Homo sapiens: one gene and its partners. The protein of the gene in region 1 purifies or fractionates together with the protein of each later gene. This does not show direct contact. Each region holds a gene or a part of one and is shown on either strand. Other genes may lie near its edges.

Evidence for each region.
Region 2: the proteins of HIPK4 (region 1) and ABCD3 purify together in Homo sapiens (affinity purification with mass spectrometry, with the first as the bait; one large-scale study listed by BioGRID). This does not show direct contact.
Region 3: the proteins of HIPK4 (region 1) and LBR purify together in Homo sapiens (affinity purification with mass spectrometry; one large-scale study listed by BioGRID and IntAct). This does not show direct contact.
Region 4: the proteins of HIPK4 (region 1) and SUGP2 purify together in Homo sapiens (affinity purification with mass spectrometry, with the first as the bait; one large-scale study listed by BioGRID). This does not show direct contact.

The regions. Positions count from the first base shown.
Region 1 is NC_000019.10:40,383,682-40,387,181, forward strand, and holds part of HIPK4 (homeodomain-interacting protein kinase 4), read right to left. Parts: intron 459-3,500; coding exon 102-458; intron 1-101. UniProt on the Homo sapiens protein: Protein kinase that phosphorylates human TP53 at Ser-9, and thus induces TP53 repression of BIRC5 promoter. May act as a corepressor of transcription factors.
Region 2 is NC_000001.11:94,512,389-94,515,775, reverse strand, and holds part of ABCD3 (ATP-binding cassette sub-family D member 3), read right to left. Parts: intron 631-3,387; coding exon 574-630; intron 1-573. UniProt on the Homo sapiens protein: Broad substrate specificity ATP-dependent transporter of the ATP-binding cassette (ABC) family that catalyzes the transport of long-chain fatty acids (LCFA)-CoA, dicarboxylic acids-CoA, long-branched-chain fatty acids-CoA and bile acids from the cytosol to the peroxisome lumen for beta-oxydation.
Region 3 is NC_000001.11:225,414,539-225,418,038, reverse strand, and holds part of LBR (delta(14)-sterol reductase LBR), read left to right. Parts: coding exon 1-55; intron 56-2,706; coding exon 2,707-2,761; intron 2,762-3,500. UniProt on the Homo sapiens protein: Catalyzes the reduction of the C14-unsaturated bond of lanosterol, as part of the metabolic pathway leading to cholesterol biosynthesis.
Region 4 is NC_000019.10:19,027,018-19,030,517, forward strand, and holds part of SUGP2 (SURP and G-patch domain-containing protein 2), read right to left. Parts: intron 1-3,500. UniProt on the Homo sapiens protein: May play a role in mRNA splicing.

The DNA of each region.
Region 1 (3,500 bases):
AAAGTGCTGGAATTACAGGTGTGAGCCACGTTGCCCACCCTAGAATTTTTTTTCATGTAACAGCCCCCACACTGACTGCCCTCACCCAACTTTTCCCTTACCTTCGTCTCGGCCAGGTAGTCAGCCGAGGACTTGAGCTGCCAGGGGTTGGCAGCGTCAGGGTGGGGGTTGCGCTTGAAGAAGTGGTGGGCCTTGCAGGCGGCGTGCAACAGGTGTGGCTTGGGCAGGCCCTGGGTTTCGCAGATGTAGCGCACCTGGTCGTACTCGTTGTTGCCGGGGTAGAGAGGCCAGCCCAGGTGCAGCTCAGCCATGACGCAGCCCAGGGACCACACGTCCACCTTCTCGCAGAAGGGCAGCCCCAGCAGGATCTCAGGGGCCCGGTAGAAGCGCGACTGGATGTATGGCTCCTTCACGTAGCGCACCTCGCTGAAAATGCTGGCGGATCCGAAGTCAATCACCTGTCGGGGGTGGGGAAGAGGGCGAGTGGGCAGGTCAAGCAGCAGGGACAGCCGAGCTGGGCCACCCCGGCATCTTTCACCTGGCATCTTCCTGCATCTGCTATTTGACTCTGGCCATCTCTGGGTCTGTGATTCTTTAGTTGCTTTGTTGGTTTTTGTTTGTTTGTTTGTTTGTTTGTTTGAGACAGAGTCTCACTCTTGTTGCCCAGTCTGGAGTGCAATGGCACGATCTCAGCACACTGCAACCTCCACCTCCCCGGTTCAAGCGATTCTCCTGCCTTAGCCTCCTGAGTAGCTGGGATTGCAGGCGCCCACCACCACACCCGGCTAATTTTTTGTATTTTTAGTAGAGATGGGGTTTCACTATGTTGGCCAGGCTGGTCTCGAACTCCTGACCTCATGTGACCCACCCGCCTCGGCCTCCCAAAGTGCTGGGATTACAGGCGTGAGCCACCGCACCCAGCCTTTGTTGGTTTTTTTTTTTTTTTTTGAGACCGAGTCTCACTCTGTCGCCCAGGCTAAAGTGCAGTGGCGCAATCTTGGCTCATTGCAACCTCTGCCTCCTGGGTTCAAGTGATTCTCCAGCCTCAGTCTCCTGAATAGCTGGGTCTACAGGTGCACACCACCATGCCCTGCTAATTTTTGTATTTTTAGTAGAGACGGGGTTTCACCCTGTTGGCCAGGCTGGTCTTAAACTTCTGACCTCAGATGATCTGCCCTCCTCAGCCTCCCTAAGTGCTGGAATTACAGGCATGAGCCACCGCACCCAGCTGTGGCCGTAGTTGTTAAGTCCCTATCTCTGTCTCTTCCAGCCTTTGTGTCTGGTTCGAGTGACTGACTCTGTCTCTGTTTCTCTCCACTAGAACTATGCAAAGGAGGGTTAGGACCCTATTCTTCCTCTTGCACCCCACACCTTGTCCATCAGCCAACAGATCTAGAATCTGCTCCCTCTGCATGCCATCCACAGCCCCGACCCTGGTCCTATCCTGCATCCTTTCCAACCTAGACCAACGCGGGGGTCTCCTCGCTGGTCTCCCTGCTCCTCTCCTCTGCCCCCTAGTCTGTCTGTCACAAGCATCCAGAGGGATCCTGTGGCCGCCCGGGATAGATTGGGTCCTCCCCTGCTCATAGCCACATCCTGTGACAAAAGCCAAAGTCCTCACCGTGGCCCACAGGTCTCCAATGTCTGCTCTGTCACCTCTCTGCCACATCTCCCACTCTCCCCATCACTCACCCTCCTCCAGCCACAAGGGTCTCCTCACTATTCCTTGAACAAGTCAGACATTCCCAGCTCAGGGCTTTTGCACTCGCTGTTCCCTCTGCCTGGAATGCTCTTCCCTGCATGAGCACAGGGCTCCCTGCCTCACCTCCTTCAGGTCTTTACTCAAATGTCACCTTTCTATCAAAAGGTGAAAGGCAGGACAAAAAAAAATGATCACCTTCTCAGTGAGACCTTCCCTAATCATTCTGTGAAAGCATCAGCCATCAGTCCCCATCCTTTCTATCCCCCGCCAGGCCCCTGTTTTTCTTTTTCTTTTCTTTTCTTTTTTTTTTTTTTTTTTTTTTTTTTGAGTCGGAGGTTTTTGAGACAGAGTTTTGCTCTTGTCACCCAGGCTGGAGTGCAATGGTGCAATCTTGGCTCACTGCAACCTCCTCCTCCCAGGTTCCAGTGATTCTCCTGCTTCAGCCTCCCAAGTAGCTGGGATTACAGGTGCACACCACCATGCGCAGCTAATTTTTATATTTTTAGTAGAGACGGGGTTTCACGATGATGGCCAGGCTGGTCTCGAACTCCTGACCGCAGGTGATCCACTCGCCTCGGCCTCCCAAAGTGCTAGGACAGGCGTGAGCCACCGCACCCAGGTCCACCATTGCTCTTAATGCCATTTCACACACTATATCTCTTAATTTTTTATTTTAATTTTATTTTTTAATTATTTATTTTTTTGTGACGGAGTCTCGCTCTGTTGGCCAGGCTGGAGAGCAGTGGTGTGATCTTGGCTCACTGCAACCTCCACCTACTGGATTCAAGTGATTCTCCTGCCTCAGCCTCCTGAGTAGCTGGGATTACAAGCGCTAATCTTTTGCATTTTTGGTAGAGACAGGCGGGGTTTCACCATGTTAGCCAGGCTGGTCTCAAACTCCTGACTCAGATGATCTGCCCGCCTCAGCCTCCCAAAGTGTTGGGATTACAGGCGTGAGCCACGGCGCCCAGCCCTTTTTTCCTTTTTAGAGACAGGGTCTTGCTCTATCACCCAGGCTGGAGTACAGTGGCACCATCGTAGCTCACTGTAGCCGCGAACTCCAGGGCTCACAAGATCCTCCCGCCTCAGCCTCCTGAGTAGCTGGGACCACAGGCATGCACCTCCATACCCAGCTAATTTTTTAACTTTTTGTAGAGATAGAGATGGGTCTCACTATGTTGCCCAGGATGGCTCCTGGGCTCAAGTGATCCTCCTGCCTCAGCCTCCCAACATGCTGGGATTATAGGCATGAGGCCCTGCACCTGGCCTCTCTCAGCATTTCTCTCCCCAGCGAGGATGTCAGTCCCACGAGGGCAAAGAATTTATCCATTTTGTTCAATACTGTATCCCTAGATGCCTAGAACAGGGCTTGGCACACAGCAGGGGCTCAGTAAATAATGAGTGAATGAATGAATGTATGTATGGGCTTTGAGTTCCTTCATTCTCTTTCCATCTCTTGCTTGTATCTCTCTCTCTCTGTCTCTCATTTGAGACAGTGGCTCACCCTGTCACCCAGGCTGGAATGCAGTGGCGCAATCTCGGCTCAAGGCAACCTCCACCTTCCACGTTCAAGCGATTCTCCTGCCTCAGCCTCCCAAGTAGCTGGGACTACAGTCACATGCCACCATGCCCAGCTAATTTTTGTATTTTTAGTAGAGATGGGTTTTCACCATGTTACCCAGGCTGGTCTTGAACTCCTGGGCTCTAGTAATCCTCCCACCTCGGCCTCCCAAAGTCCTGAGATTCTAGGCATGAGCCACTGTGCCTGGCCATTTGTACCTCTCGTTCTTTCTTTGCA
Region 2 (3,387 bases), on another chromosome or scaffold:
TTTGAGCATTTCACATTGAGTTGAAAAGAACTGACATAGTGAGAATGGCACTACTGAAGCACCAGAATAAGTAATACACGTGCACCAATGTAAGCCTCATTTGAATATCTTTGTAAATTATAGTGACTATCTAATGAATCCTACTTACTACAGTACATTGATAAACATAGCTTATGTTATTCAATCTTCCCCCTTGTAGTCCTGACCTCTATTAAAAATGTCCCTAAATTTTTTGCCATCTAATTCTTCTTAAGACTTTTTCTCCTCTGTCACTGCTGGATAAGAAAAGTTTACTTCACCATATTTGTGATAAGACTATGCAAAGTTTAGTCAGTTACTATTAACAGATAAGAGTCACTTATAAAACTGGAGAAAAACTGTTACACCATTGCTTTCAAAACTGACAACTATAATATTTAAGAAAATCCTATTTTATAAAACAAAACCACCTTTTCTCCTTAAGACATATGTTTAAGGGAATACAAACCATAAAATCTAAAACCATATTAACCTGAATTCATATTTTAAAGAAAATAAAATTTCACTGTACCATTCAATGAAAGAAATACAAACCTCATGATGTTTCCAAAGAGATTTCCTATGAGACACAGTGAAGAGAGTGATGCCAACCTAATACAAAGAAAATGATTTAGGTTTAATGAGTAACAGAGTCACAAATTAAACTAGTCCATGTACTTTAAGCTGTTAAGAGGACAGTCTTCAGTGACTAAAGTTAAAAAGCAATGTCAATGAGAAAAAATTTACAACTGGATGCAAAATGTTTATAGCAATGGAAAGTACTGGCCATCAACCACATAATAAAAACTACCAGGTACTGGCATTAAGTGTATTATTTTCTTTTGGGCAAAAAACATATCTCCTATCATGTCTCCTATTTTATTGTGAAAAATATATGAGAGGAATATGAGAAGGATAAAAATAGCCAAAGGTCAAAATCAGGAAAAATTAAATCAGTATAGCATTGTTGACAGTCAACTTGCTTTTCAAATACAGGGTCATAATCCCCTACCGTAAACTACTGTTTTGGAATGTGTCTTGGAATTCAGATTTTGAAAATGTATTATTTAACACCCCCAGAGAGTTCTGAGGCAGAATTTTATAATTAAACACATAAATGTTTCTGTAGCAACACACATGGACACTGATATTGAGACATATAGAGTTTAAATATCTTTTGTTAGCTTAGGCGAAGTTTTACCCAGTGAGCTTGCTACAAAATTATGAAAAATGTTTTAAATTTAAGCACTTTCTGGATTTCAGATTGTGAATACGTATTTATAGATCTGTACTTCAGATTTTCAAAAAAAAAAAAACATTAATAGATAATAGCTGTAGTTGCTCTAGATCAGTGGTTCTCAACCAAGGTGGGGAGGTCAGTGATATTTGTCCCTCAGGGGGACATTTGGCAATGACTGGAGGCATTTTTATTTTCACAACTGAAAGCACTACTGCCATCTAATGGGCAGAGGCCAGGGATGCTTTCTAAACATCCTCCAGTGCACAGCAACCCTCAACCCTGCCCAACTAGGAATTAACAGTGAAAAGGTCAATAGTGCCAGGACTGAGAAACCCCACTCTGGGTCACTGTTCCTCCAAGTGGATCACTCAAGGCTGGCAAATGCATGCTTAGGGCATCTGGGAAATTTCCACCATGGTTTCTTAATTTTATTTTCATTTTGATGATAATTTTTAAAAGATCATTATAAGTATATTCTAGATCATTTTTACCATGAGATTCAAGTTCCTCGGTTTGTATCTACACCTCTGATTGCCAAAGTGATATAAAATAAAACTTCTAATGTGTAATAAGTTTGGCTGCACTGTAAAAAGGTTCTTAAATTGGTTAGGAATTGCATAATAAAATAAGCATATTATCAGTATTAATAAAACATATATTTCAACCATACCACACTTTTCTGATTTTTCAGAGCTCATTTAAGATATTATTTCTCTGTTTATGATACTACAATAATTGGATTAGACATCTACTTAATGCACACATTCTTTACATGAGGATATAAAAAATATATGAAGTATATAAGTCAAAATAAAAAGCAAAATGCAAAATAATGAAATTTGAACCTCAGATTCTATCTTTCCTTAATTAAATCCCAAACCACTGGTTTAGTTTCATCTAAACGGTATCATAGGTCTCTTTAATGTTGTAAATTTGAAACTGTATTTAAGTTTTGTCTGTATTTAATGTATTTAATGTGTAAGTTTATATTAGTTTTGTAGCTGTAAAAGAGCTCTAAGCTTAAGGAATTCACACCTCATCATGTTTATACATGTTTAAGTGGTATCACAGTAATTTAAATTATCAATGAGGCCCCATATGAATTTTCTTTTAAATGGAACTGATGTTTTATAGAATTTATACAGTCTTATGTGGGGACTTCAAGCCTATAGCTAGAGCATAAGAGGAAATCACGTGGTCAAAATTACCAGCAAAGAGCTGCTATGTCATTGAATCAACTGCAGACTACATGGTTTTATGTACATGAGAATACCATAAACATCTCTAATACCTATATATTTGAAAACCAACATGAACAAATGTATAATTATATATTACCAAAGCAAATTCAAGAATAGAAAATAAATCATTAACAAGATAAAATCAGTAGTTAAAATCTTTCTACAAAGAATAGCAAATTCTTTCATCATCACGCCAGTGCTTCTCAAACTTTAATGCGCATTTGAATCATCTTAGAATTTTGGTAAAATGCAGATTCTGATTTAGCAGGGCTTGAAATTCTGCATTTCTAACAAACCCCTAGGTGACACTGCTGCTGCTGATCATGAACACACTTGGAATAGTAGGAATTCATAATATATATACTCAATATGACCTTTTTTATTTATTGAGAACTCCCAAAGAACACATACAAAATGTTAAAAATCCTCATCTACCTCATTTACTTATATAGAAACTATAAAACAGCTAGGATATACTACATTTGTTCCAAAATTTAACCATAGTATAGATGTTGGTAACAATTTCTCAAAGAAAGAAAACTGATACTATTGAATAATTACTTAAAGAATGGAACCAATAAAGATAGCCTCAGACTTAGCTACTAAAAGCAGCTTTGGTAAAATATTGCTCAGGCTAGAAAATAAAACGGATAAATTAAAAATTGCCAAATAATTATTGTTGAGTTTTATTCATAAAAAAACTCTAATGTTTAGATAAAGTTAATGGAAAAATTAAGAAAAGGTCAGTTTATTAACTCTAAGTAATGAGGTAAAGTGAAATAGATTTAAATACGTTGTTTTATATAAATGAGGTATCTTTTATATCTTTTATCTTTTATATCTCATTTATATAAAACAACATATTTAAATATATTTCCCATATATAAA
Region 3 (3,500 bases), on another chromosome or scaffold:
CTACCTCCTGTGGTTTTTGATTCAAGTCCTGTTCTACCTACTGCCAATTGGAAAGGTACGTTTATGGTAATTCTGTTTTGTTTTAATAAGATGAGGTCTCACTATATTGTCCAGGCGGGTCTCCAATTTCTGGGATCAAGTGATCCTCTTGCCGCAGCCTCCTGAGTCGCTGGGACCACAGGCCTGTGCCATGCTGCCCAGCCTTAGAGTAGTTTAAAGGTTAAAGGCTGTTGTTGGTCATAATTCCCAAAACTTAGTTCATGAAGCCATTTCTCTTGTGCTGTCTGTATAACACTTGCTTATTAGGAGGAACTTAAAAAAAAATCTGATTGAGATTTCTTGTGTAACTTTTCAAACCAAATAGAAAAGAATAGGCTATTTTGCAAAGTAGCCGACTCTCAGTGGAGGTTGCTATGGAAAAAAAATTCACTCTTAGTATGTGTCATTTCAGATGCAGCATTTTAAATGATTAATTGATAGGCTACTGGGCTCGATGGACTTTAGTCTACATCTTTTACTTTAAAAAAGTATGAAAAGTTTCTAATTTTCATCTCTTTCAGAAGCTTGTTGTCAAGAACATTTTACGTTGTTTTCAGATTCCTGCAATATCTTTAAAATTTGTCTCTCCATTGCTAAGTGTAGTTTTTTCTTCTTTCAGTAGAATCCTTTACTTGGATATATTTAAAGAAACATGAGATTCCCTAAGTAATAAATAATTTATTTAAAGATCTTATTCTTAGGGCTTTGCAAGTTTGCCAACTGTCTGTAAACCAAAGGATCGGTTTTACTGGTGAATGCCAGTGATAGGAGGGTAGAGCTGCAGGCTTAATACTGTGGAGTGAGACCATAACTTTAGTGGCTCTAGCAAGGATTTTTGTGATAAAGACCTTCAGTCATTTCTACAGTAAGCCTCTACAGTTAAATTCAGATTCATTTAGGGTAAGGTGATTTCAGAGTATCAAGGAAAGCAGTTTTGGTGTTTAAAGTCATATATGTATATACTCATAGACTAAAGTGACTAAAAGCATATATATTAAAATATATATTAATATTATGCAGTCATCCCTTGATATCCTTGGGGAGTGGTTCCAGGACCTCCTGTACATACCAAAATCTGAGGATGCTGAAGGCCCTGATAAGAAATAGTATAGTATTTGCATATAACCTGTGTGCATCTTCCTTGTATACTTTGTTGCCTTTAGGTTGCTTATAATACCTAATACAACGTAAGTGCCATGTAAATAGTTATCATACTGTATTAGGGAATAAGGACAAGAAAAAGAAGTCTGTACATATTCAGCTCAGATGCAATTTTTTCCGAAATATTTTGGATCTGGTTGGTTGAATCCATGGATGTGGATCCCGTCGATACGGAGGGCTGACTGTATATTTGGATCTATATATTCACAGATTAAAGCCTAACACAGCATTTACTAGACTCCTTTAATAGATAAGGATCATCTGAAATTAGCATGTGGCATTTTACTAATCCTGTGATCTCAAACAGCTTTTACGTTTCTCTTGGGAGAGGAGGAATGCTAGCTAATGAAATCTGTAGCTAATGATAAGATAAAGTAGTTTAGCCCAGAGCAAATGATACTATATTTATATTTTACAGTTTGAAATGAATTGCTACATTTCTGAATAGTTATTTTGTGGGGTAAAACGTGGCTGCATTGAGCAAGTGGACTTTTTACTGAGCCAGTTCTATTGGGTACCATGCCTGTGGGTATCTCTGTGCTGAATGCTGTGAGTGATGCCGAATGAAGAGAGGAGATGGTTCTGATGCATGATGCGTGCTCACAGTCTCTCTCTCTCTCTCTCTTTTTTTTTTTTTTTCTTGAGACAGGGTCTTGCTCTGTTGCCCAGGCTGGAGTGCAGTGGTGCAATCTGCAACCTCCTCCTGGGCTGAAGTCATCTTCCCACTTCAGCCTCCCGAGTAGCTGGGACCACAGGCGCGTGCCACCAGGCTTGGCTAGTTTTTGTATTTTGTATTTTTGTAGAGAGGGGATTTCACCATGTTGCCCAGGCTGGTCTCCAACTCCTGGACTCAAGTGATCCTCCCACCTTGACCTCTCAAAGTGCTGGGATTACAGGCATGAGTCACCACACCTGGTTTCTCACAGTCTCTTATTGCAGATAAAAGAATCACATGAAATGGTTAAATAACTGGATGGGCAATATATATATAATATATAGCAGAGCAAGTAAGCATATGAGTATGCGTCATCAAATAGCACTTGGGTCATAGTAGAGTGGATAAACAGGGTAGAGCCCAATTGAAAAGGACCCCACAAATGGAAGACAATGGAATCATACTGTTACTTTGTAAGAGTATGGTAGCCATTGGTAGATGTTTGAGCTAGGGATCCACTAGATATAAAGGTATTTAAGCACATTTAGTCTTGAGGTGGTGGTACACAGGAGTGTGGCAGGGAGCGTGGCTGTTGCAGTTGCTTGGTCCTACACTAGGAAGTCATTACTGAATTTGTATTTAAGATAAATTCCTGAAGGTGGAATTGCGTCATTAAAGGGCTTGCCACTAGGGTTTTTGAAACATATTACTAAATTTCCATGTTACAAGATATCTTCCTTCTTGGGCGTGTTGAAAATTAAGTGATACTAGAATATATATATGTGTGTGTGTATATATGTATATATGATGGTGATGTGCTTAGTAAATTTGTAAATTTTTTTTCTTTTAAGGTTGTAGAAGGAACGCCTCTTATTGATGGAAGAAGACTCAAGTATAGATTAAATGGTGATTTTCTTTTTTTAAGACTCAAATTGATGATTTGATAGCTTAAACTTCTAAGTGTTAAACTCTTTGTTAAAGCTGATTAGACCAGAGTAGTAAGTGATAAATTATTTCTTAGTAGTTGGAAGAGCAACTGTTTATACCTGTAGCCAACTTGTATAAATTATGCCATTAAAGTAACATAGCCTCTTAGTCACTCTTGTCCACTCTCCAGTTTTATTTTCTTAATAGTGCTCATCACTGTTAGAAATCATTGCACTTGTCTAGGATTTTATCACCTGAGGTGTTACACGGATGTGGGCATCCAGGCCACTCCTGCTGCGTGAGCTGCTCTTGTCCTTGCTCATGTCCTCTGGGTTGTCCCTTGAATATTCGTCACACACACTTCCTGGGCCTTTGCCTGGAGAACTTACCCCCAAACGTCTGACACCTGCATCTTCACCTCCATCTGTCTTCTGCTGAGAGAAGCCTTCAGGTCCCTTTCTCTCCCCTGCTCTGTTTTGTTTTTCTGTCTGACATTTGTGCCTCCACACATCAGTGTATTTGTCTCTTCATTAGGGTCTCTCCACTAGAATGTGGCTTCATGGGCTAGGACTTGGCTATGTTCATTGTGACACTCTTGGTGCTAGGAAGATGGGCATGTAGTGGGTGCTCATTCATATGTGAGTGCTGGATGGATGAGTTGTGAGCTTGCTGGGCAGCTCAATAAATGGATAGACCTTGCTCCCTGTGGGTCCGGCAT
Region 4 (3,500 bases), about 21 Mb from region 1:
ACCTATAATCCCTGCACTTTGGGAGGCCGAGGTGGGAGGATCACTTGAGCCCAGGAGTTTGAGACCAGCCTGGGCAACATAGCGAGACCCTATCTCTGTCAAAAATAAAAAAGGGCGGAGGGGAAGATGTACTTGCATTTGCTTAATCACACATGGAGAAACTGTAAGAAGCGAGGAAGAGAAGTGAACTACGGGCATATGAGAACAGTGGGCCTCAGGGAGAGTTTTCATGGAATGCCTTTCTTTCTAGCTTTTCAATCAGAATCGATGACCTAGTTAAAAAAAAAATCAAATGAACAGGGAAGGAGAGGTGCCAGGAGGTAGCAATAGGTTAAGAGGCCACAGGAAGCCAAAGTCGTATATAAATCCTAGTTCACTTGTTCAACAAGTACAAACTGGGCACCTACTGTGCGCAAGCACTGTACTAGGCACTGAAGTTACAGCAAGAAAATGAGAACTCTTCCAAACTTGTCAGTTGAGAGAGCCAGACAATAAACAAAAATATATCAGATGCAAGTTAAGTACCAAGAAGACAAATCAAGCACGTGGGAACCTGAGGAGGCAATGACATTTTGAGACAGGCTAGTCAAGGAGGGTAGCTCTGACACTTTTTTTTTTCTTTTTTTTTTTGAGACAGAGTCTCGCTCTGTTGCCCAGGCTGGAGTGCCGGAGTGCAAGGGTGCGATCTTGGCTCACCGCAACCTCCACCTCCCAGGTTCAAGCGATTCTCCTGCCTCCGCCTCCTGAGTAGCTGGGAATACAGGCACCCGCCACCATGCCCGGCTAACTTTTGTATTTTTAGTAGAGACAGGGTTTCACCACATTGGCCAGGCTGGTCTGGAACTCCTGACCTTGTGATCCGCCCACCTCGGCCTCCCAAAGTGCTGGGATTACAGGCGTGAGCCACCGTGTCACGCTGCATAGCTCTGACACTTTATCTAGCAGCAGTGGCCTGGCATGAGGAGCCAGACCGTACAGTTACAAAGGGAAGCCTTCCAGGCAGAGGGGGAATGAGGACAAGACCCTGAGGTGGGACCAGTAGGGGGCCAATGTAGACAGAAGGGAACACAGGGAATGAAAGGCCAAGTGGTAGGAAGGCAGCTCCCAAACTCTGCTACTGGAGCCCCAGGGACCACCTCCCCAGACATTCTTACTTAATTAAATAAGGGGATGACCTGGGCATCAGGGTTTTTAAAAGGCCCCCAGGTGACGCTAACGTGCTACAAAGTTAGGGAACCACTAATATAAGAGACACAAATGGAGAAGGAGTACCAGATCCAAGTCGGGCCCTCAGTGGTACTCTGGAATTTACTCTGGGAGAGACAGAAGGCTAGTGAAGAGTTCTAAGCAGAGGGATGATCTCACTGGCTGCTGCACAGGGAACAGATTAAAGGAGATGAGCACAGACGTGGATGTTCCTGCAAGAAATCCACTGTGATAACCCAGGTATTGATGATTGGTATTGATGGCATGATTAGGGAGGGAACATTAGTGACAGAGAGTGATGGCTGGATTCTACTCAAGAGAATTTTCTCATACCCTTTATGAGGAGATGAAAAGTTCAGAGTGGAGCAGAGAAACAGAGAAAGGCTAAACGATAGACTGCTTTGCAACACAGAAATGTTCCAGAATCACCTAGCATACTGCTAGGTTTCTAGTCCTCTCCCACCCACGGCCCCCTAATCTGTCTTTTTTTTTTGAGACGGAGTCTCGTTCTGTCACCCACGCTGGAGCGCAGTGGTGCGATCTCGGCTCACTGCAACCTCCACCTCCTGGGTTCAAGCTATTCTTCTGTCTCAGCCTCCTGGGTAGCTGGGATTATAGGGGCCTGCCACATTTTTGTATTTTTAGTAGACACGGGGTTTCACCATGTTGGCCAGACTGGTCTCAAACTCCTGACCTCAGGTGATCTGCCCACCTTGGCCTCCCAAAGTGCTGAGATTACATGTGTAAGCCACTGCACCTGGCCGTCTTTTTTTGAGACAGGGTCTCACTCTTTGGCCCAGGCTGGAGTATAATGGCACAAACACAGCTTACTGCAGCCTCGACTTCCTGGGCACAAGCGAACTTCCTGCCTCAGCCTCCCAAGTAGCCAGGGCCATAGGCGCATGCCACCATGCCCAGATAAATTTTTTTTTTTTTGAGACGGAGTCTTGCTCTGTCACCCAGGCTGGAGTGCAGTGGCACAACCTTGGCTCGCTGCAACCTCCGCCTCCTGGGTTCACGCCATTCTCCTGCCTCAGCCTCCTGAGTAGCTGGGACTACAGGCGCCCGCCACCACGCCCGGCTAATATTTTTAGTAGAGACAGGGTTTCACCGTGTTAGCCAGGATGGTCTCGATCTCCTGACCTTGTGATCCGCCCGCCTCGGCCTCCCAAAGTGCTAGGATTACAGGCTTGAGCCACTGCGCCCGGCCATTTTTTTTCTTTTTTTTTTTTTGAGATGGAGTCTCGCTCTGTCGCCCAGGCTGGAGTGCAGTAGCGCAATCTTGGCTCACTGCAGGCTCCACCTCCCGGGTTCACGGCATTATCCCGCCTCAGCCTCCCAAGTAGCTGGGACCACAGGCACCCACAACCACACCTGGCTAATTTTTTTTTTTTTTTGATTTTTAGTAAAGACGGGGTTTCACCATTCACAGGATGGTCTCGATCTCCTGACCTTGTGATCCTCCCAGCACTCTGGGAGGCCGAGGCGGGCAGATCACAAGGTCAGGAGTTCAAAACCAGCCTGACCAACATAGTGAAACCCCATCTTTACTAAAATAAATACAAAAAAATTAGCCGGGCATGGTGGCAGGCACCTGTAATCTCAGCTACTCGGGAGGCTGAGGCAGGAGAATCGCTTGAATCCAGGAGGCACAGGCCGCAGTGAGCCAAAATCACGTCACTGCACTCCAGCCTGGGCGACAGTACAAGACTCTGTCTCAAATAAAAAAAAAAAAGAACTAGTAGAGCTTAAACCTGGGCAGCGGTGACAGGGATGGAGCCAGGAAATGGATCCAAGAACCTGTCTTGGGGCTGGGAGCAGTGGCTCACGCCTGTAATCGCAACATGCTGAAGGCAGAGGTGGGAGGATCACTTGAGCCCAGGAGTTGCAGACCAGCCTGAAAACATAGCAAGACTCCATATCTATTAAAAAAAACAAAAAACAAAAAAAACAAAAACATAAAAAACACCAAAAAACAAAACTGGGCTGGGCTCGGTGGCTCATGCCTGTAATCCCAGCATCTTGGGAGGCCAAGGCAAGTGGATCACCTGAGGTCGGGAGTTCGAGACCAGCCTGGCCAACATGGTAAAACCTCATCTCTACTACAAATAGAAAAATTAGCTGGGCGTGGTGGTGCATGCCCGTAATCCCAGCTACTCAGGAGGCTGAGGCAGGAGAATCGCTTGAACCCAGGAGGCGGAGGTTGCAGTGAGCCAAGAGGCGGAGGTTGCAGTGAGCCAAGATCCCTCCATTGCCCTCCAGCCTGGGAGACAAGAGTGAAACTCCGTCTCAAA